2 separate regions of the Homo sapiens genome follow, and region 2 is linked to region 1. The links come from fine-mapping of genetic effects on gene expression. A gene starts in region 1. The other region holds a variant in brackets. All regions are shown on one strand. Distances are from middle to middle. Region 1 holds the start of SCAT1 (S-phase cancer associated transcript 1). Region 2 has its middle 16 kb from the start of DNAH17.

Region 1 (10,876 bases):
GATGGGGTTTCACCATGTTAGCCGGGATGGTCTTGATGATCTCCTGACCTCATAATCCACCTGCCTCGGCCTCCCAAAGTGCTGGGATTACAGGCATGAGCCACCGCACCAGGCCTAAAGCCATTTTTTTTTTAAAAGCTATGTCTAAGCCCTAACCCCAGCCCCTGTGAATGTGAATCCTTGGAAAAACGATTCACCAAGTCCTAACTCCTAGTACCTGTGAATCCTTGGAAAAAGGACCTTTGCCGATGTAATTAAGTTAAGGATTTTGAGATGAGATTATATGAGATTAGGGCATGCCCCATATCCAGTGACTGGTGTCCTTATCAGAGAAAGGCAGAGGGAGACTTGAGACACAGGCCCAGAGGAGAAGTTCATGTGAGATGGAGCAGAGACTGGAGTGACGCCGCCACATACCAAGGAACACCTGGGGCCACCGGAAGCTGGAAGAGGCAGGTAGGACCCTCGCTGGGAGCCTTCGGAGAGAGAGTAGCCCTACTGACACCTGGATCCTGGGCTTCTGACCTCCAGGACGCGAGAGAATCAGCTGCTGTTGCTTTCAGCTGCCCAATGCATGAACATTTGTTCCAGGAGCCCCAGGAAGCCGACCCCATCAGAACGCCAAGGACCGGGGTGGAGAGTCCCACCGTGTCTGAGCAGAGAGTCTGAGTGCTCATAGAATGGGAAGACGCTGCCCTGTATCAAGCCAGGGACCTGATGGGGGCTGGAGAGCGGGCTTGGACATGTGCCTGCTGCCATCGGAGCCGTCTGGGGCCACCACCCAGAGGACAATGTTAAGGATGAAAATTCAGGGCCTCCAATTACACAGAAATCAACATAGCCATGAAATGATAAGGACACCGCAGCTTCCTCTTTTAAGAAGACACAAGGCAGCCGGGCGCAGTGGCTCACGCCTGTAATCCCAGCACTTTGGGAGGCTGAGGCGGGCAGATCACCTGAAGTCAGGAGTTCGAGACCAGCCTGGCTAACATGGAGAAACCCCCTAAAAATGCAAAACTATCTGGGTGTGGTGGCACGTGCCTGTAACCCCAGCTATTCAGGAGGCCGAGGCAGGAGATTCACTCGAACCCGGGAGGTGGAGGTTGTGGTGAGCGGAGATCATGCCATTACACTCCAGCCTGGGCGACAAGAGCGAAACTCTATCTCAAAAAAAAAAAAAAAAAAAAAAAGACGACACAAGGCAGTTCCAGGGGCAGAGATTTGGAATATTTTGAATAAAGGGGGAAAAGGTAAGAAGATACTACACAATGAGGGCTTTAGAAGAATAGTAAGAATTTTTGAGGCTGCGTGCAATGGCTCACACCTGTAATCCCAGCACTTTGGGAGGTCGAGGTGGTGGATTATTCGAGCTTGGGCAACATAGCAAGACCTCATCTCTACTAAAGGTTTTTTAAAAAATTAGCCGGGTATGGTAGCACATACCTGTAGTCCCAGCTACTGAGGAGGCTGAGGTGGGAGGATCACCTAAGCCTGTGAGTTCGAGGCTGCAGTGAGCCAAGATCATGCCACTGAACTCCAGCCTGGGCAACAGAACGAGAGCCTGTCTCAAAAAAAAAAAAAAAAAAAAAAAAAAAAAAAGTAAGAATTTTTGGAATTCAAATGTGAATTTTTAATCTTTTTAATTTTACGAATCATAGAGAAAAGAATCTGAATGAAGATCTGGAAATACAATTTCCAGTCTCTGGCTTTGCTTGGCCTGATCATTTCCAAACAAACCTTAAGACTTGCTGTTTTGCCCAAATTCTTCCCTAGTCTAATCGTCAGGCAGATGTGACCGTGGGGAACTGGCTGTCCCCGCATCAGCAGCAGGCAGCGGCATTACCTGAGGTATTTCCTTCCTGGCAGTTGATCATAGAAGTTCATGGTTCCATCTGTGCTAAAGAATTCATCCCCAGATCCGAAAACCAAGAGCTCTGGTTTGGTCTGATAATGTGTCATATGGTCTTCAGAAGAAAGCAGAACAATCGGTCATTCCAAAGGTCATTTGGAAGAACCAAGGTCATTCAGCTTCTAGTTGTGAGTGGAGGCTGCAGAGGGACCCTAGGAGGCGTGGGACCCTAGAGGAACCCCAGGGATGAGTGGGTGTGGAAGGGGCGCCCTGGTCAGTCAATAGTCAACACAAGAGCACTATTCTAGTCACAAGTGGGCCCAGGAGGCGTTGAGACTGGTGGCCGGGGGCGCCTGCTCTCCTGCCCACCAACCAGGTGACCTGTTCAAGCCACTGAACCTGCCTGGGCCTTAGTCCCACAGCGCTGGGGTGGAGGCAACAGGCGTCGCTGACTCTGGGTTATTGGGGTGGCGGGGTTAGATCAACTGCCAACCTGGCGAACGCCCTGGGACCACGCATGGCTGGTAAGGAACTCTAGAGGGGATTTTTCATCCTTATTATTATGACCGGCGCCCCTCCATGCTGAGTGATGTGCTGAGACTGTGCACGCCACCCTCTGCCCCCTTCATTTCAAAAATGCAGAACGGAGGCTGCAGGGGGCCACCTGCCCAGTGTGCACAGCTCATGAATGACCGGATGAGGTGACACCACCATCTGTCACCCCAGGGCCAGGCCTCTGTCCTCCCCAGAAACTTGTCCTCGCCCACTCCACCTGCAAGTCCTCTAGGGGCTGAGCACTACACAGGAACACGTGCAGATTCCAGCACCCAGAGGTCCTTCACACCTAGCCACAGGGCCTCTGGCAGCCTCGGCCATCCTCTCTGCGTGCCTGAGGCGGCTGCGCTGAGCAGTGGGGGACCCAGGAAAGGTCACGGCTCCCCCAGCACATCTGACACACCTCCCGCCGGGCCAGCTGCTGGCTTCAGCAAGCAGACGTCCCCTTCCTATGGAAAAGCCCATGAAAGCTGATTTGAAATATCTGAGCAGCTGTTTGAAGGACGTGGATCAGCCCTGTTCAGCGGCCTGAGCGGAGAGCGGGGCCAGAGGTACAAGCCTGGGACGGCCCGCAGGCTCTGGGAGACACAAGTCTTCTCAGACTTAGGCCTCATGGGACCCCAGGGGCCTGGTCAGCTGGGTTCCCCAAGGGCTCACCCACAGAGAGCCTCCGTTCTCAGTGTCGCTGTGGATGACCAACACTAAAACCCCCAAGCCCAGACCGCACCTCGTTCCCGCTCACCTCGGAATCCCTGGAGAAATCAGACATCAGCCCTTTAAAAGTTCCCCAGTGACTTTAACGTGCAACCCAGGTGGGGCGTCACTAGGCCAGGTGTCACCCATGTGTGCCCCCAACTGGAGGCCCTCAGTGGGCTTGTTCGAGGGCCTCCAGGCTGGATGTTCGCCCCAGATGGCCCAGATGGCCTATTTTGTGCATTGTCTGGCTGTGTGGAAACAGAACAGCACCATAGTGACATCTAGCCCGGATGTGGGCATGGCCCACCGACCACTGACCGCCTACGTCGTTCTTCCACCCCGAGCGCCCGCATATCCCGTTCCGTTCACCTCCCACTGGGGTCAACACTCCCTTCACAGCCTCCATCTTCCCCGGGGCAGTCCCATTGCTTTGGAGACTTCAAAAAATTGTACTCACAAAAGGGGTCGACATGTTCTATCTTCTCCTGGAAGCGGGGTGTGTCCTTGTTCCCAGTGACATTCAGCGTGTGCAGGGCCCGTACGCATGCACTCTGGCCTCCAAAGCACCTGTCGTTGTGGAGATTCCACAGCAGGCAGGGTGGAGATGGTGAGCCGCAGACATCACACCTGCCCCAGGTCAGGCCGAGGCTGCTCATCAGGAGCCCCGAGACCTCGAATGCAACGTCTTCAGATCCCAATTCCCTCCCTGCATGGAGCAGAACAGTGTCTCTCAAAAACTCACGCCCACGAGAAGTCTCAGAATGTGGCTTTTAGTAGAAATAGGGTCTCTGCAGATGTCTTTCATTAAGCTGAGGCCATATTGAGTGAGGGTGGATCCCAATCCAGTAACTGGGGTCTGTATAAGGAGAGAGAACAGAGGCACATGAACGGAAGGTCAAGCGACAACGGGTGCAGGGATGGCAGCCAGGCAGCCACAAGCCAAAGGACGCCCAGGATGGCCAGCAGCCCTGGAAGCCGGGAAAGACAAGGGAGGCTCTTCCCCTACAGCCTGCAGAGGGAGCAGGTCATTATCTGTTAATATCTTGATGTTGCAGTTTGGCCTCCAGAACTGTGAGAAATGTGATGTTGTTTGATGCCACCCAGTTTGTGTTCCTCTATTACAGCAGCCCCGGAGACTAGTAAGTGGGTCCCTGGCAGAGGAAGGGGACAGAGCGTCGAATTCTCCTCCCCGCAGGGAGCCACCTGGGCTCCGAGAAACCCTTGCACCGGCCAGAGGCCATGACACTAATGCTGGAATGTTCTCTGTGAGCGATGAAGCTTTCAACCAGACTCCGCTAGAGAAAAATACCCGACAGAACTGTTTACCCGATTAAATGAAATTAAATTCAGTTTTCTTGTTGCCAAGCAGAAATGAGGCCCTGTCATAGGAATGTCTGAGCAGTTATAAAAATAGGAGTTCATGTTTGCACATAGCTGGTTGAAAACAGAAAATTCACACCTGCTCTAAGAGATAAACAATGCACAGCTGAGCGTTGAACTCACACAAACGAGCCACCATGCACTGCAGAACAGAAACAGAAGAAGACTTAAGAAAAAAGCCAAGATAAATGATCACAGCCAGGCACGGTGGCTCATGCCTGTAATCCCAGCACTTTGGGAGGTTGAAGCAGGCAGATCATTTGAGGTCAGGAGTTCAAGACCAGCCTGACCAACATGGTGAAATCCCATCTCTACAAACAAACAAAGAAACAAACAAAGAAACAAACAAAAAATTAGCTGGGTGTGGTGGCAGGTGCCTGTAATCTCAGCTACTCAGGAGGCTGAGGCAGGAGAATCACTTGAACCTGGGAGGCAGAGGTTGCAGTGAGTGGAGATCACACCACTGGACTCCAGCCTGGGTGACAGAGTGAGACTCCATCTCAAAAAAAAAAAAAAAAAAGATCCTTCCTCCCCAATTCCAACACCCCCCAGGAAAACTCAGTCTACAATTGAATATAAAGCAAAGAACTGGCTGTTTGAAAAGTTCATCAAAACGTGCAAATGTCTGGCAAGATAAATAAAGAAAAACCACAAACATAAACCACGCCAGCCTGGGCAAAAGAGTGAGAAGAGAAGAGGGGAGAAGAGGGGAGAAGAGGGGAGGGGAGAAGAGGAGAGAAGAGGGGAGGGGAGGGGAGAAGAGGAGAGAAGAGGGGAGGGGAGGGGAGAAGAGGGGAAGGGAGAAGAGAGGGGAGGGGAGGGGAGAACGGGAGGGGAGGGGAGGGGAGAAGAGGGGAGAAGAGGGGAGGGGAGGAAAGAAAGAGAGAGAAAAGGAGTGAGGGAGGGAGGGAAGGAAGGAAGGAAACCAAAGGCCAGAGGAGAGCCTGGAGGGGGTCCTGCTCACAGCCTCAGAAGGGATCAACCCTGCAGACACCTGGATATCAGACTTTGGCCTCCAGAACTGTAAGATGGTACCTTTCTGTTGTTAAAGCCAGGGGTCCTCAACCCCTGGGGCCACAGACAGTGCCCTGTCTGGGCCACACAACAGGAAGTGAGCAAACGAAGCTTCATCTGTATTTGCAGCCACTCCTCATCACTCATGTTACCGCAGAACTCCGCCTCCTGTCAGATCAGTGGTGGCATTTGATTCTCAGAGGAGCACGAACGGTATTGTAAACTGCGCATGCGAGGGATCTAGGTTGTGGGCTTTTTTTTTTTTTTTTTTTTTTTTTTTTTGAGACACAGTCTCGCTCTGTCGCCCAGGCTGGAGTGCAGTGGCGCAATCTCGGCTCACTGCAAGCCCCGCCTCCCGGGTTCACGCCATTCTCCTGCCTCAGCCTCCTGAGTAGCTGGGACTACAGGTGCCCACCACCATGCCTGGCTAATTTTTTTGTATTTTTAGTAGAGACAGGGTTTCACCGTGTTAGCCAGGATGGTCTCGATCTCCTGACCTCGTGATCTGCCCTCCTGGGCCTCCGAAAGTGCTGGGATTACAGGCGTGAGCCTCCGAGCCCAGCCCCTGAGCCACCGCGCCCAGCGGTTGTGGACTTCTTATGAGAATCTAATGCCTGATGACCTGTCACCATCTCCATCACCCCCAGATGGGTCTGTCTAGTTGCAGGAAAACAAGCTCAGGGCTCCCACTGATTCTTCATGATAGCGCAGTTGTATAAGGATTTCATTATATATTACAATGTAATGATAATAAAGTACACAATCAATGTAATGTGCTTGAATCATCCTGAAACCATCCCCCACCCCTGCCCCCATCCATGGAAAAAATTTTCTTCCACAAAACTCATCCCTGGTGCCAAAAAGGTTGGGGACTGCTGGTTTGAGCCAAAAACAAAAATCAAAAAAACAAAAACAGGCTGGGCACGGTGGGCGGCTCACACCTGTAATGCCAGCACTTGGGGAGGCCAAGGCGGGCAGGTCACTTGAGCCCAGGAGTTTGAGACCACCCTGGGCAACATGGCAAAGCCCCGTCTCTACTAAAAATACAAAAATTAGCAGGGCGTGGTGGCAGGCACCTGTAATCTCAGCTACTTGGGAGGCTGAGGCACGAGAATCACTTGAACCCAGGAAACGGAGGTTGCAGTGAGCTGAGATCACGCCACTGCACTCCAGCCTGAGCGACAGAGAGAGACTGTCTCAAAAACAAAAACAAACTTCTCCCCCTCTCCCTTCCCCCCAGAGGTCGCCAGGCCAACACCATTTTACCGATTCTGACAAACCTTCCATGAATATATAATTTCCATGTTATTTAAATTACTACAGAACCCCTGAAGAGATTATTTTATCTTTTTTTTTATAGAGATGGGGTCTCACTATATTGCCCAGGCCAGTCTCAAACTCCTGGCCTCTGGCAATTCTCCCGCCTCGGCCTCCCAAAGTGCTGGGATTACAGGCAAGAGGTTATTTTTATAAAGTGAAGGTTTTCCTAGGTTATTTTATAAAAGTGAAGGCTTTGCTAGCAAAGACTGACCAAAGTAGTCAAGGAAAATGAGAGATCAATGTCTCACGGGAAATGAGAGATTCAAGAACCCAAATCAACCATCAGCAAGTGGGCAGTAACTGTCCCTATTAAAAATGATCCTTAGGAGGCTGGGTGCGGTGGCTCACACCTGTAATCCCAGCATTTTGGGAGGCCAAGGTGGGAAGATTGCTTGAGCCCAGGAATTTGAGACCAGCCTGGGCAACATGGTGAAACCCTCTCTCTAAAAAAATAAAAGTGATCCCGGCCAGGTATGGTGGCTCACACCTGTAATCCCAGCACTTTGGGAGGCTGAGGCAGGTGGATCATGAGGTCAGGAGATCGAGACCATCCTGGCTAACACAGTGAAACCCCATCTCTACTAAAAATACAAAAAAATTAGCTGGGCATGGTGGCGGTGCCTGTAATCCCAGCTACTTGGGAGGCTGAGGCAGGAGAATGGTGTGAACCCAGGAGGCAGAGCTTGCAGTGAGCCAAGATCACGCCACTGCACTCCAGCCTGGGCAACAGAGTGAGACTCCATCTCAAAAAAAAAAAAAAAATCCCATGACTCAGTAGGCTTGATTCCAGAACATAAGTTTGGTTCAAATTAAGATATTTACCCACATAAATTGTTATATGAATAAACTAAAAGTGAGAGACCATTTGAACATTTCAGTAACATTTCAATAGCTACTGAAAGGCACTTGATAACATTTAGAAAATGTTCTCACTAAAAAAAGAAATCCTTAGCAAACCAGAAAAACAATGAAACCTGCTTAATGTTATAAAATGTATGTACATATTGAAACCAAAAGCCAAAGGCACTATCATCTTGAGGGATGAAATTCCAGAGGCCTTCCTGGAAGAGGCACTGCCGTCTTGAAGTCCTGTATCCTATGCCCAAGGCCAGGGCCAGAGGGTGTAAATGCTGAAGAAGAAGGGATAAACATGTTCCTGTTGGCCAATGACATGATTAACGAGGAAATCTAGCCTACGTAACTAAAAAATTACCAAACGGATGAGTATTTACACATATGTATCAGTAGTAACCATTTAGAAAACACAAACTTTTAAACTTTCCATTTCAAATAGCTACTAAAAGTAAAAAGAATTTTCAAATAAACTCAACAAATAACAATGCTTGGAGTAGAAAACTGCAGTAATTCCCTGGAGGACAAGGTACCTGAACAAAAGGAGAGATATTTTGTGTTCCTGGGTAGGAAAAATGTAATCATACAAAACATGCCAATTCTTCCATATACAATACAGACCCAATCAGAATTACGTTGCGTTGTTTTCTGTTTATTTGTTTTAACTTAAGTTGAATTTCAAAGTACACTTGGAAGAATGCTTGAAAGAAAATTAGCCAAACATTTTTAAAAAGAAGAATGTTCAGGAAACCTTTCTCTATCAGATATAAAAACAGGCCGGGCACAGTAGCTCATGCCTATAGTCCCAGCTACTTGGGAGGCTGAGGTAGAAGCATTGCATGAACTCAAGAGTTCAAGGTTGCAATGAGCTATGATTGTGCCGCTGCACTCCAGCCTGGGAGACAGAACAAGACGCTGCCTCAAAGAAGAAAATGTACAGTAAGCTCTTGTTATTAAAACTATATGGCAGTGACCAAAGCATAGACAAATGATCAGTGGAAGAAAACTGAAGTTCAGAAAAAGACCCAGGTAGGCTGGGCGTGGTGGCGGGCACCTGTAATCCCAGCTCTTTGGGAGGCCGAGGTGGGCACATCACGAGGTCAGGAGGTCGAGACCATCCTGGCTAACATAGTGAAACCCCGTCTCCACTAAAAATACAAAAAATTAGCCGGGCGTGGTGGCGGGCGCCTGTAGTCCCAGCTACTCAGGAGGCTGAGGCAGGAGAATGGCGTGAACCCAGGAGATGGAGCTTGCAGTGAGCCGAGATCGTGCCACTGCACTCCAGCCTGGGCGACGGAGTGAGACTCTGTCTCAAAAAAAAAAAAAAAAAAAGGATCCAGGTATGTCTGAGAATTTAGCACATGACAAATATAATATTGGAAAGCATGGGGGGATTTACACAATACACAGTGTTGAAATGATTCGGAAAAAATAAAACTAAATAGCTATCTTACTTGATACAAAAAGTTAGAAATAGAATGTCTATATTACTTCCTTTGAGATGGAGTCTTGCTCTGTCACCTAGGCTGGGGTGCAGTGGCACAACCTCAGCCCACTGCAGCCTCCACCTCCCGGGTTCAAGGGATTCTCCTGCCTCAGCCTCCCGAGTAGTTGGGATTACAGTTATAGCCACCATGCCCGGATAATTTTTGTGTTTTTAGTAGAGACACGGTTTCACCACATTGGCCAGGCTGGTCTCGAATTCCTGACCTCAAGCGATCCACCCGCCTCAGCCTCCCAAAGTGCTGGGATTACAGGCGTGAGCCACCGCACCTGGCCCACAACCAAAAACTTAAAAACCTGGCTGTTTACAAAATGAAGACATTATGCCAATCAAAACCAGCCAAACATGAAAGACCAAATATTGCCGGATTCCATTTATATGAGGTATAAATTGACCACCTAGAGGAGTCAAATTCGTAGAGACAGAAAGTAGATTAGCGATTACCAGAGGCCGGGGCAGGGCGGATGGGGAGTGAGTGTTTCGTGGGTGTGGAGTTTCAGTTTGGGATAGAAGAAGTTCTGCAGGTGGATGGTGGCGGCAGCTGCACAACAACGTGAATGGACTGAATGCCCAGGATAGTGCACTTAAAATGGTAAAAGTGGCCAATTTTATGTTATGTATATTTTAACAGAATTGTTTAAACCTGGCTGCTGATTTATATTGAGATAAATTCTACTTATTTATATTAAAAACTGTCATATTTATTTTTTTGACTAAGTTTTCAGAATAAATTACATAAAATAAGTGAAATCACTGGATTCAATTACTGGCCCGGGAGACAATGGCGGGCCACACTACCCAAGGACGCCTTGAGGTTCGAGATTTGCCCTAATAAATTTCCTGTTTGGTGAAAAAGCTAAACAGGTGAGTAGGCACAGGGTGAAGAAATGCAAGTGAAGATGAGAGGGGAGGAAATATGCCAAAGTGAAGAAATATACTAAACAGTGCTTTTGGATGATAATCTAGGAACAATCTAGGAACTCCAGCTCTCATCTTGATGTAGTTTAACCAATAACTTGGTTTTGGAGCCAAGGTAATGACTCAATCATCCACGGCAGCCAGGAGCCAAGCTGTCAACCCTCATTGCAAAAAAAGCACAGAAAACCAAATATCAAGCGTGGCCTCAAAAAGAATGAGGGGGCTGGGCGTGGTGGCTCATGCCTGTAATCCCAGCACTTTGGGAGGCCGAGGCAGGTGGATCACGAGGTCAGGATTTCAAGACCAGCCTGGCCAATATGGTGAAACCCCACCTCTGCTAAAAACACAAAAATTAGCTGGCATGGTGGCGCGCACCTGTAGTCCCAGCTCCTCAGGAAGCTGAGGCAGAAGAATTGCTTGAACCCAGGAGGCAGAGACTGCAGTGATCCAAGATCGTGCCATTGCACTCCAGCTTGGTGACAGAGACTCCATCCCCCCACCAAAAAAATAAATAAATAAATAGGGAAAGAAAACTATCTTTTTCTTTTTTCTGTAAAACCGATTTTTAAATTTCCTCTACTGGGACATGTTGCCCCTTTCAAAGACAATCCCTCCTCTCCTCCAAGATTCATCTTAAAAGCCACTTCACACTCTCCCTGAACTGCTCAAATTGAAATTTTACCCCATCTCCCAAGACTTACGTAGAATGAGAACCAGTTGCGAAGCTTTCCCGGTCCACGGCCGCCAGATCTAGCCCCCTACCTTGGCGTTCCAACACCCTGATGGTG
Region 2 (10,876 bases), 38 kb before region 1:
AACCCAGGAGATGGGGGTTGTGGTGAGCTGAGATTGCACCACTGCACTCCAGCCTGGGCAACAGAGTAAAACTCCATCTCCCAAAAAAAAAAAAAAAGAAGAGAAAGAAAATTGTATTTCTCAATAGCCTGCCCTTTTCCCTTTAAATATTGAAGCCCTCAAAATCATCTTCAGAGAAAAGCATAGACCTGCCTCCCAGGCATATGTCCTTAATTTTGGCAAATAAACCTCCTGAAATGATTGAGACTCACCTGGCTCATTTTCCTTGATTGACAGGCACTTGCCTCATGTTTCTCTTCCTGGCTGGGTGTTGGATTGGGGGCAGGGGAGTGGGTGTCTGGCTTCAGTCCTCCCTGCCAGGGCCACCAGCCGAGGATGCCCTTCACTCTTTTTTTGCTTCTGTCAGTCACAGCCCACATCGAGGTAGGGCCGGGATGAGCTGAGAGAACTCAGTCATCCCCAGGGGCAACACTTCCTCCCAGCTGAATGAACTTGGAAGGCAAATTTCATGAAGACATTACCCATCATTAAAGAAAATCGCAGGTCCCTTTCCCGCTGCCGGGGATGCTTGCAGACAGGAGAGGCCGGGCCGTCTGTGTTTCATCAGGCTCCCCACCTCCCTCTGTCTACTGGGGCCCTGCCGCGTGTCCTCCTGCTGCGTTCCCAGCAGAGGAACAGGAGGTGGCCTTTGTCCTCCTGCCCAGGCGCGTCCTTACCCTTGAAGTTGGGTGGAAAGGGAGGGCTGGGCCTGAGCAGTCAGGCTGGCCAGGTAGACCACCCTTCCCTTCAGGGGCAGGACACCGCGGCCAGAGAAGTCCCTGCCAGCCAGGTTTCCAAAGGTCACAGCAAGGGTACACGCTGTGGAGACCTGGGAACCTTTTCTCTTTAGGAGTCTCTGCACACAGGTCCTAAGGGTGAGGCCCCCAACAAAGCACAGAAATGCATGGATTCCAAGCCATCCAGGCTGGGAAACAGTGTGGGGTCTCTGGAGGAGTTTGCCTCCGCCCACACAGGGAGACGTACCTGGGGCACAGGCAGTGGTCACAGACACACCTCATGTAGACTCAAAGAGATAGGGACAGACCATATACGGGATGTTGCAACCGGGGAAAGAGCCGAACTTGATCCCAACACCACCCTGCAGATGGGGACTTACAGCCATGAGCAGCGAGGGGTCAGTGGATGGAAAATTGCTAAGAGGAGAACTTCAAGTGGGGGTTCTTGCTAAAGGCAGACCAAGGACCTGGATATGGCCGGGGGAAAGCAGAGGTGCTGAGGAACTCGATCAGATTTCAAGGGTTGGGGTGACTCAGTAGGATTCTCTGCTGAGACTGGCGTGGGCAGGCTGAGGACCGGGCTCGAGAACGGAGGCCTTATCAAAAGAGGGTTCAGTGGGCCAGGCACAGTGGCTCACGCCTGTAATCCCAGCACTTTGGAAGGCCGAGGCGGGTGGATTGCCTGAGGTCAGAAGTTTGAGACCAGCCTGGCCAACATGGTGAAACCCCGTCCCTACTAAAATACAAAAATTAGCCAGGCGTGGTGGCAGGCGCCTGTAATCCCAGCCACTTGGGAGGCTGAGGCAGGAGAATCGCTTGAACCAGAGAGGCAGAGGTTGCAGTGAGCCGAGATCGCACCACTGCACTCCAGCCTAGGTGATAGAGTGAGATTCTGTCTCAAAAAAAAAAAAAAAGAGGGCTCAGCAGAGTCTGCCTGAAGTTGGGTCAAGGAGGGAGCCTTTTGTCAGGCCTCAGCATAATAAGGGGGTTCTGAATCTGGGGGAGGAGGAAAGGTAGATTCTCAGGACTCCAGGCAGGGCGCGTCCCTCCCCTGGGGCGTGGTCTGGCTCCTGGGGGCTGGTGTCTGTTCTCAGCCCTCAGTAGGAACCCTTCCACTTCACATGGGCTGCCTGTGATGTCAGCATCGCCAAGCCCTGTCCCTCCTGCCATCTCCCCATCCGCACATTCTGTGTCCACCGCAAGCACCTTCAGGTGGCATCGGTCCATCTGACGCGTGCTGAGAAGGCAGTCCGGCCCGCAGGCATGGGGCCGCCCCTCCCTGCCCTTCCTCTCTGCTCGGTCATGCTGTGATTATGCTGAGAACTGACAGCACCTGCAACCTGCATTTTTATTAATTAGATAACACAAGTCTTCTATAATTTTCATTTTTATTCCCCACCCCCCCCCACCGCCACTCCACTTAGAGCGGAGGTTCTCAGAGTGGGGCCCCTGGGCCAACAGCCTCTGCATCAGCTGGATTCTCGTTGGGATCACAGAGCCCGGGGCCACCCCAGATTGTGGGGCAGCAATCTGTATTTCACAAGCCCCCAATGGACTCTGATGCAGGCTAAGGTTTGAGAGTCACTGATTTAGAGTAAAATTTTGGTTTCTGTTTTAAGCAAATTCACTGAAAGTAGCCAGTTATCCTTGTTAAAAAGGCTTTCAGTGTTTCCCTATTTTAGGGGTCTTGCTGTCTGCCCAGGCTGGAGTGCAGTGGCACAATCATACCTCGCTGCAATCTTGACATCTGGGGCTCAAACCAACCTCCCACCTCAGCTCCTGAGTAGCTGGGACTACAGGGGCACACAACCATGCCTGGCTTTTTTTATTTTTTAATTTTTTGAAAGAAAGGGTATTTCTATATTGCCCAGGCTGGCCTTGACTCAAGCAATCCTCCCATCTCAGCTTCCCGAGTAGCTGAGACTACAGGCCCTTGCCACCACGCCTGGCTAATTTTATTTTTTGTAGAGACAAAAAAGTAAGACTCACGTTGTTGCCCAGGCTGGTCTCAAGCTCCTGGTCTCAGACAATCCTCCTGTCTCGGCCTCCCGAAGTTCTCGGCGCGCAGGTATGAACCCCCACGCCCAGCCTTCCCTGCTTTATGGTCATTCACACCTGAGGCCTGAGTTGCCTTCAACAAGCCCCACGGGTTACCTGAGTGGCAGGTGTAACTTAAGGCTGAGGTTCTCTGCTTAGCCACGGGCAGAATCACCTGGGACGCTTTGAGAATTAAGGGCACTGGAGGGTCGGGGCCAAGCGTGGAGGCTTTCAAAGCACCTGTTTGGGTCCAAGTACACACAGGGCGGGGAATCTTTGCTCCATGGGTCCACGCTCCTCAGAAGTGACCCTTGCTGCTCTGGGTCTATTTCAGCAGAACCATCACCAACCAAACAAATGAGAAATCAGGGCGGATTGGACTCAGAGACAAATGCTTTCCGGTGAGCAGCCAGGCGCACAGCAGAACGATAGAGGAGCGCTCAGAACTCGGGAGTACCTGTCACCTCTGCCATGGTGGCTGGGCTCGCTCACGGTGACTGTTTCCCTAGCAGGAGAGACCCTGGCTGTGACCCTGCAGCCTGTGCCTCCTGCTGCTGCAGGGAGAGAGGGAGTGCCCGGCGCCTACCTGGGCTTTTCCGGGCCGTCCGTCCGCTCATCATGCCCCTTGCCCCAGCTCACTTCACATCTTCGCTGGGTGGGGATTCAAGGACAGGCTGGGCTCTAGGAGGTCAATGGTCCCTCCCCGGGCTTCCAGCATGTTGTAGCTCAACTTCTACCAGACATCTGGAAATACCAAATTTCTTTCCTTAAAGGGACAAAGACCCCTTTTCTTTGGAATATATATATATATATATATATATATATATTTTATTTATTTATTTTTTTTGAGACAGAGTTTCACTCTTGTGCAGGCTGGAGTGCAATGGTACAATCTCGGCTCACTGCAATCTCCGCCTGCCGGGTTCAGGTGATTCTCCTGCCTCAGCCTCCAGAGTAACTGGAATTACAGGTGTGCACCACCACACCCAGCTAATTTTGTATTTTTTGTAGAGACGGGGGGGGGGTTTCACCATGTTGGCCAGGCTGGTCTCGAACTCCTGACCTCAGGTAATCCACCTGCCTTGGCCTCCCAAAGTGCTGGGATTACAGGCGTGAGCCACTGTGCCCGGCCCTGGAATATATTTTTTTAAACCCTAAACTGTATTATAGAATAATCTCTTCCTCAGTGACTTGGTTTATAATATATTGGGAAAAAAAAAACTCTATGATGAAAATCAAGTGCTGTAAGTTAAATATCTGAGTCCAAATGATGTCAAAAAGCGGCAAGGCACTGGGCTTCCCCCATTCAGAGAGCACCCTCCCCTTCCTGCCCCGCGCTTCTGTTGACCTTTGGTCCTGTTTGCAGGAAGCTCTCAAGTTTAACTCTGAACTTGAAGGGAAGGAAGGGAGTGAACCACATGGCCCTGGGGTCGGGGCCTCTGGCCGAAGGGCGCTCAGCTTGGTCTGTAAAATGAAATGTGTTTTGAATGTCATGAGTCAGGAAAAAAGAATTTGAGCGCAGTCTGGAAATGAAATTTCCTGCCTGTGGTTTGACTCACGTCTGTCTGTCTCGAAATCTACCCCAAGGACATTTATTCCACTGTGACAGGGCTCATCTCTGAGGAGCACCAGACTCCTGCGGTGGGGAGGGAAGATTATCCGCGCTGCAGAGACTAGCTGGCCTCCGGA[A/G]GCCGCCTCCTGACCCCGCGTCAAGCACCGCGGTGGATGGCGCAACCCAGCTTTGGGAATTAATTACCCAAGGCGCGTTTCCGTGCAGTCTGGCCTCCCTCCCTGAAGGCTTCTTAAGCAATAGGGAACTAGGAGGAGTTGAGACCAGCCTGGCAAACGTGGTGAAACCCCATCTCTATTAAAAATACAGATGGGGGCAGGGCGCGGTGGCTCACGCCTGTAATCCCAGCACTTTGGGAGGCCGAGGCAGGTGGATCACTTGAGGTCAGGAGCTTGAGACCAGCCTGGCCAACATGGTGAAACCCCGTCTCTACTAAGAATACAAAAATTAGCCGGGCGTGCATGCGCCTGTAATCCCAGCTACTGGGGAGGCTGAGGCAGGAGAATCGCTTGAACCCAGGAGGCGGAGATTGCAGTGAGCTGAGATCACACCACTGCACTCCAGCCTGGGTGACAGAGGGAGACTCTCTCTCAAAAAAAAAAAAAAAAAAAAAAAATTATAGATGGGAACGAGGAATCGCAACAGTCCTTACTGCCTTTCTTGTCTTGCCTGGCTAGTGCTAAAGTATGTTGAGGAAGGAAAAAAATTATTTTTTACGATTTCAAAGTTAGTTTTATTTAGAAGTTTTATTGAGGACTAGAGACCGACCACAGCCTGGGAGAAGTCTTTTAGAGGGGGTTTGTCGGACTGTTTTGAAATAGTGTTTTAATTTACAGTTTATATACAGGTAGTGGGGGTTTAGTAGGTGTAAAATTATATTAAAGCTTGGGTATAAGAGTATATCTGGTTGTAGATTATAGAATAATTATTAAAAATGAAAAATAAAATCCTGAGCCTCACCACCAACTGAATGAACCCCCTCTTGGCCAAGTTGACCACATAGTCACCTGAAAAATTGAATTCCCAGCCCGATCTCCCAGGGAGGTGAGGCATACCTGCTTATATCCCCTCTCTCTCTTTCTCTTTGTTTTTTTTGTTTCTGTTTTTTTTTTTTTTTTTTTTTTTGAGACGGAGTCTCGCTCTGTTGCCCAGGCTGGAGTACAGTGGCGCGATCTTGGCTCACTGCACCCTCCACCTCACAGGTTCAAGCGATTCTCCTGCCTCAGCCTCCTGAGTAGCTGGGATTACAGGCGCCCTCCACCACACCTGGCTACTTTTTTGTATTTTTAGTAGAGACGGGGTTTCACCATGTTAGTCAGGATGGTCTCTATCCCCTCTCTTTTGGAGTTTAGGCACAGATGACCAGCACTAAGGTTAGAAAAGAGATCAGAAGTCTGGCAGAAGAGACTCCTGTGGCAATGAGATACCATGTTCCAACTTGGCCCTGGTGTAGTATCACATGACAGATGGCAGACCCTGAAGGAAATCAAAATATTTTACCCCACAATATATTTTTTTCTTTTTTTTGGAGACAGGGTCTCGCTCTGTTGCCCAAGCTGGAGTGCAGTGGCACATCTCAGCTCACTGCAACCTCCGCCTCCTGGGTTCAGATGATTCTCCTGCCTCAGCCTCTCGAGTAGTTGGGATGACAGGCGCCCACCACCACACCCAGCTAATTTTTGTATTTTTAGTAGAGACGGGGTTTCACCATGTTGGCCAGGCTTGTCTCGAACTCCTGACCTCAGATGATCCGCCCGCCTAGGCCTCCCAAGGTGCTGGGATTACTGGCGTGACATATGTTGAAACGGCCCTACAAAGCTGTCTTTTGTGAGGGAAATTTGCATTCTGTAGAAAAGCACCATTAATGCAGCCAGGTCTTTCCCAGATCTAGGAAATACTAAGAGTCTGACACGTTTAAGGTCTGAAAAGAGACATTGACCACCTATTTCCTCTGAAGGCTGTTACCTGGAGATTTCATCTATACAACAAGAACCTTGGTCTCCACAACCCCCCTTATCTTAACTCAAGCATTTCTTTCTACTGACCTCAAGACTTTAGCCAAAGCTTAACTCTTTCAACCAATTGCCAATTGGAAAATCTTTGAATCTTCCTGTGACCTGTAAGCCCTCCAACTCCCACTTCAAGGTATCCCACCACTTTAGGCTGAACCAATGTATACGCTCCATGTACTGATTTATGTCTTTGCCTGTAACTTTGGTCTCCCTAAAATGCACTGTAAACCAAAAATACAATTCTAAGCTCCCCCATCATCTGAATGGACCTCTCCTCTTGGCCAAGGGCTTTCCAAAGTCAACCTGAAAAACAGTTCAACACTTTAAACATTTTAGCAAAACTATTACTTCGTTATGTTCCAAATTATTCCATTCAATTCAGAAGATATTTTCTGAGAGTGCCTATTACACGGAAAAGGTAATCACAGAATCTGTTACACAAACTGGGATACCTTTTTTTTAAGAGACAGAGTCTCGCTATGTTGCCTAGGCTGGTCTGGAACTCCAGCCTAGAAGGGGATGTTGGACATGCCTCATTATGTCCTCTTCCCTTTGGAACTCAGGCACAGCTGACCAGCAGTAACATCAACACAGAGACCCTAAGACTGATAGAACAGACTCTTTAGATCTGATAAGAAACATTTACCATCTATTCTCTCTGAAGCCTGCCTCCTGGAGGCTTCGTCTGTGTGGTAAAACCTTGGTCTCCACAACCCCTTATCTTAACCCAGACATTCCAGGTCTTTAGAGAATAGCTCTTTAAACCAATTGCCAATCCGAAAATCTTTGAATCTACCTATGACCTGGAAGTCCCCCCAACCCCCACCCCGACTTCCAGTTGTCCCGCCTTTCTGGACCCAACCAATGTACATCTTACGTGTAATGACTGATGCCTCATGTCTCCATAAAATGTATAGAACCAAGCTGGAACCCAATCACCGTGGACACACGTTCTCAGGATCTCCGGGGGCCACTGGTCACTCATATTTGGCTCAGAATAAATCTCTTCAAATATTTCACACAGTTTGACTCTTTTTTGTCAACAGTATAAAACCAAATTGTAACTTCACCACCCTGGGCACACTTTCTCAGGAACTCTTGAGACAGTTCTGCCACTGTGGTTGCTCATGTTGGCTCAGGATAAGCATCTCTGAATATTTTACAGAGTTTGGTTTTCTCATCAACATTGTGACTCTCATCAGTGGTTACCATGTGTGTAGGAAACAACAAGGGGTCAGGTTTTTTTTTTTTTTTTTTTTTTTTGAGATAGAGTTTCATTCTTGTTGCCCAGACTGGAGTGCAATGGCACGATCTCAGCTCACGGCAACCTCCGCCTCCCGGCTTCAAGCAGTTCTCCCACCTCAGCCTCCCGAGTAGCTGGGATTGTAGGCATGCGCCACCACACCCGGCTGATTTTGTACTTTTAGTAGAGATAGGGTTTCTCCATGTTGGTCAGGCTGGTCTCGAACTCCTGACCTCAGGTGATCTGCCTGCCTCGGCCTCGGCCAAAAATCTGTAAACTCTGGGTTCTCTGAGTTTGCTGAAACGCAAAACCTCTGAGCTCACAGCTGCTCACTCAGCCCAAAGTGCTGGGATTACAGGTGTGATCCACTGCGCCTGGCCAGGTCAGGTATTTTTTAAGGAATATAGTGACTTAGGTAAGAGATGTTGAAGGGGCAGGTGTTTTGTTTTGTCTTTTAAATATTTTTGTGGAGAGTTACATGTCAGCACAGAGTCAGGGGCTATGCGAAATTATGCTCACAAGCAGAAATGAGTAAACACGGCTTTTTATATTTATTTCATTTTGTAAGTTTTCTCTTTTGCTCATAAATCCACCATCCAGTTATGTTTATAAGACCAGTGTTGACTGTCTCATGGTTAGGAAGCTTCTTTTTTAGGAAGACATGTAATTTGTACTTGTAAGGAATGAGTATTGGGCCCAGTGTGTATATTTGTCTATTTATCGGAAAATATGTTTTGGATTATATCTATTTTTTAATTAATATGAGCTGGCGTTTTTTTTTCTGAGACAGGTTCTCACTCTGTCACCCAGGCTGGAGTGGAGTGATATGATCGCAGCTCACTGCAGCCTTGACCTCCCGGGCTCAAGTAATCCTTCCACCTCAGCCTCCTGCATAATGGGACTGCAGGCACATGCCACCATGATCAGTGTGACACACTGGCCTCCTGGCCACATCTGCACTGTAGCAAACGGCTTCCTGAGAGAGGAAAATGCAAACTCCTCATCAGGCTGCGAACTCTCTGTGGCTGGAAATTTGTAAACTCTGAGTTCTCTGAGTTTGCTGAAATGCAAAAACTCTGAGCTCACAGCTGCTCACAGGGATTTTTGAGGATTTTGCAAGGGGCTAGGTCTGCCCCTAACCCTTCCTTCAAGTTCACAGCCTACCTTAGGGGTGGCAGAGGTCAGCAAACCTCCCACAAAGGGCCAGGGTGTACTTTAGGCTTTGAGAGCCAGATGATCTCTGCGGCAGCATTTCAACTCTGACACTGGAGTTCTACAGCAGTCACAGACAATATGTAAGTGAATAGGCGTGGCTGTGTGCCAATAAAACTTTACTTAAAACAGGCAGAGGGCTAGATTTGGGTCCGCTTCAGTCACCCCAGTAATTGGGAGAGGCAAACTCCCATTTCTAAACTATTCCTCTCTGTTGCCTTCTCAGAAACTTTTTGCCTGCTATTGTCCCTACCCCCACTTTCTCCTCGTCTACCAGCTCGCTGCCACCAAAATGCAAATATGCCATAGAATCCCGCATCTCAAAAACAAGACAAGGCCACCTCCCTCCAGCTGCCACCCCCCTCCAGCTGCCACCCCATCCCTCTGCTTCAAGTAGCGGATTCAAAAAGCCCATAGCCCACCCACTCCTCAGCCGCCTCTGTGGCTTTGACCTCCATCCTCACCTTCTCTAAACCAGCTCTCATCAAAGTCCCATACAGATCCCTCCAACCATTTTTGCCTGGGGCAGTGTGTGTAGCCAGGCCAGCAGGCCCAGGGGGCAGGTTAGGGAGGTTCAGAGCACAAGGAAACAGGAAGAGGAAAACCTTACTTAGCCTTTCAAAATGTTTACTGACCTCATAGAAAGCCCTAAAAAAGGCAAATGGTTAGTTACCGGGCTGGCTGGGCCTTGCGTGCTGGCATCTGTTGGTTTACAGCATGACTGGTATTTAGAATGACCTGGAAGCTCCCAACTTCGAATTGTCCCAAACCTTTCCAGACCGAACCAATGTATACCTTATATGTATTGATTGATGTCTTATTTACCCCCAGAAGTTCTATAGGTTATACACCTCCCATTTTGTCAGTTGCTGAGACTATTGAATTGCAGAAAATGTACACCTCATGTCTCGCAAACCTATGAATCGTCACAGTGGTTGCTCCGTGGTCTTTGCCTCGTATCTGTTGTCTAAACCCAAGCCCCAATGGGGACATATGTTCTTATCCAAGATGTCCATTTTCCTCACAAGGCATAAGCCAGAGATCTCTGAAATCCACACAGCCAAGCTCCTCAGGGTCCATGCTCAGCCATCCACATCACAGCATAGCATCTGCGGCAGAATCACTGAAGCAAGAGCGGCAGTTTTGGGAGGGTCAGAATCTTGTCACTTCCAGCCACGTGACTCCTAAACCACGATTTCTAATCTTGTGGCTCATGTTAGTCCTACAAAGGCAATCTAGTCCCCAGGCAAGAAGGTCTGCCTTGGGAAGGGGCTGTTATCGTCTTTGTTTTAAACCATAAATCATAGAGTTATAAACTATAAACTAAGTTTCTCCCAAAGCTAGTTCAGGAATGAGCTTTGGAATGAGCTCATTCCACCCACGGCCAAGAATGAGCAAGGACAGCTTGGAGGTTAGAAGCAAGATGGGGTCGGTTAAGTCAGATCTTTCACTGTCTCAGTCATCAGTTTGCAAAGGCAGTTTCGACACCACACTGTCACGATTACTGGAGCTTTATAGTAAGTTTTAAAAATGGAGCAGTGGAGGTCTTGCAATTGTGTTCTTTTTTTTCTTTCTTTCTTCTTTTTTTTTTTTTTTTTTTTTGAGACGGAGTCTCACTCTATCACCCAGGCTGGAGTGCAGCGGCGCGATCTCAGCTCACTGCAAGCTCCACCTCCCGGGTTCATGCCATTCTCCTGCCTCAGCCTCCCGAGTAGCTGGGACTACAGGCGCCCGCCACCACGCCCGGCTAATTTTTTTTTTTTTTGTATTTTTAGTGGAGACGGGGTTTCACCGTATTAGCCAGGATGGACTCGATCTCCTGACCTCGTGATCCGCCCGCCTCGGCCTCCCAAAGTGCTGGGATTACAGGCATGAGCCACCGCGCCTTGGCCGTGTTCTTCTTTTCAAAGGCGTTTTGGTTAGCCTAGGTCCTTCACATTTCCATAGCAATCTTAGAATCAGATTGTGAATTCCTATTTTTAAAAAATTATCTACTGGCATATTTGTCGGGACTGCAATAAATCTG

Evidence for each region. PIP is the estimated chance that this variant, and not a neighbour inherited with it, causes the effect.
Region 2: its variant is fine-mapped to the expression of SCAT1 in lung (GTEx, PIP 0.94).

The regions. Positions count from the first base shown.
Region 1 is chr17:78,626,475-78,637,350 of GRCh38, forward strand. It overlaps SCAT1 (S-phase cancer associated transcript 1), which reads right to left and starts at 5,583. Exons shown (of 5, transcript NR_110849.1): 1 at 5,516-5,583; 2 at 3,558-3,956; 3 at 1,444-1,561. RefSeq lists an enhancer at 5,417-5,918.
Region 2 is chr17:78,588,100-78,598,975 of GRCh38, forward strand. No RefSeq gene overlaps it. Among named protein-coding and RNA genes, the nearest start is that of DNAH17, 16 kb to the left of the region's middle. RefSeq lists enhancers at 189-701, 702-1,214. The variant A/G (reference allele first, on the strand shown) is at 4,503.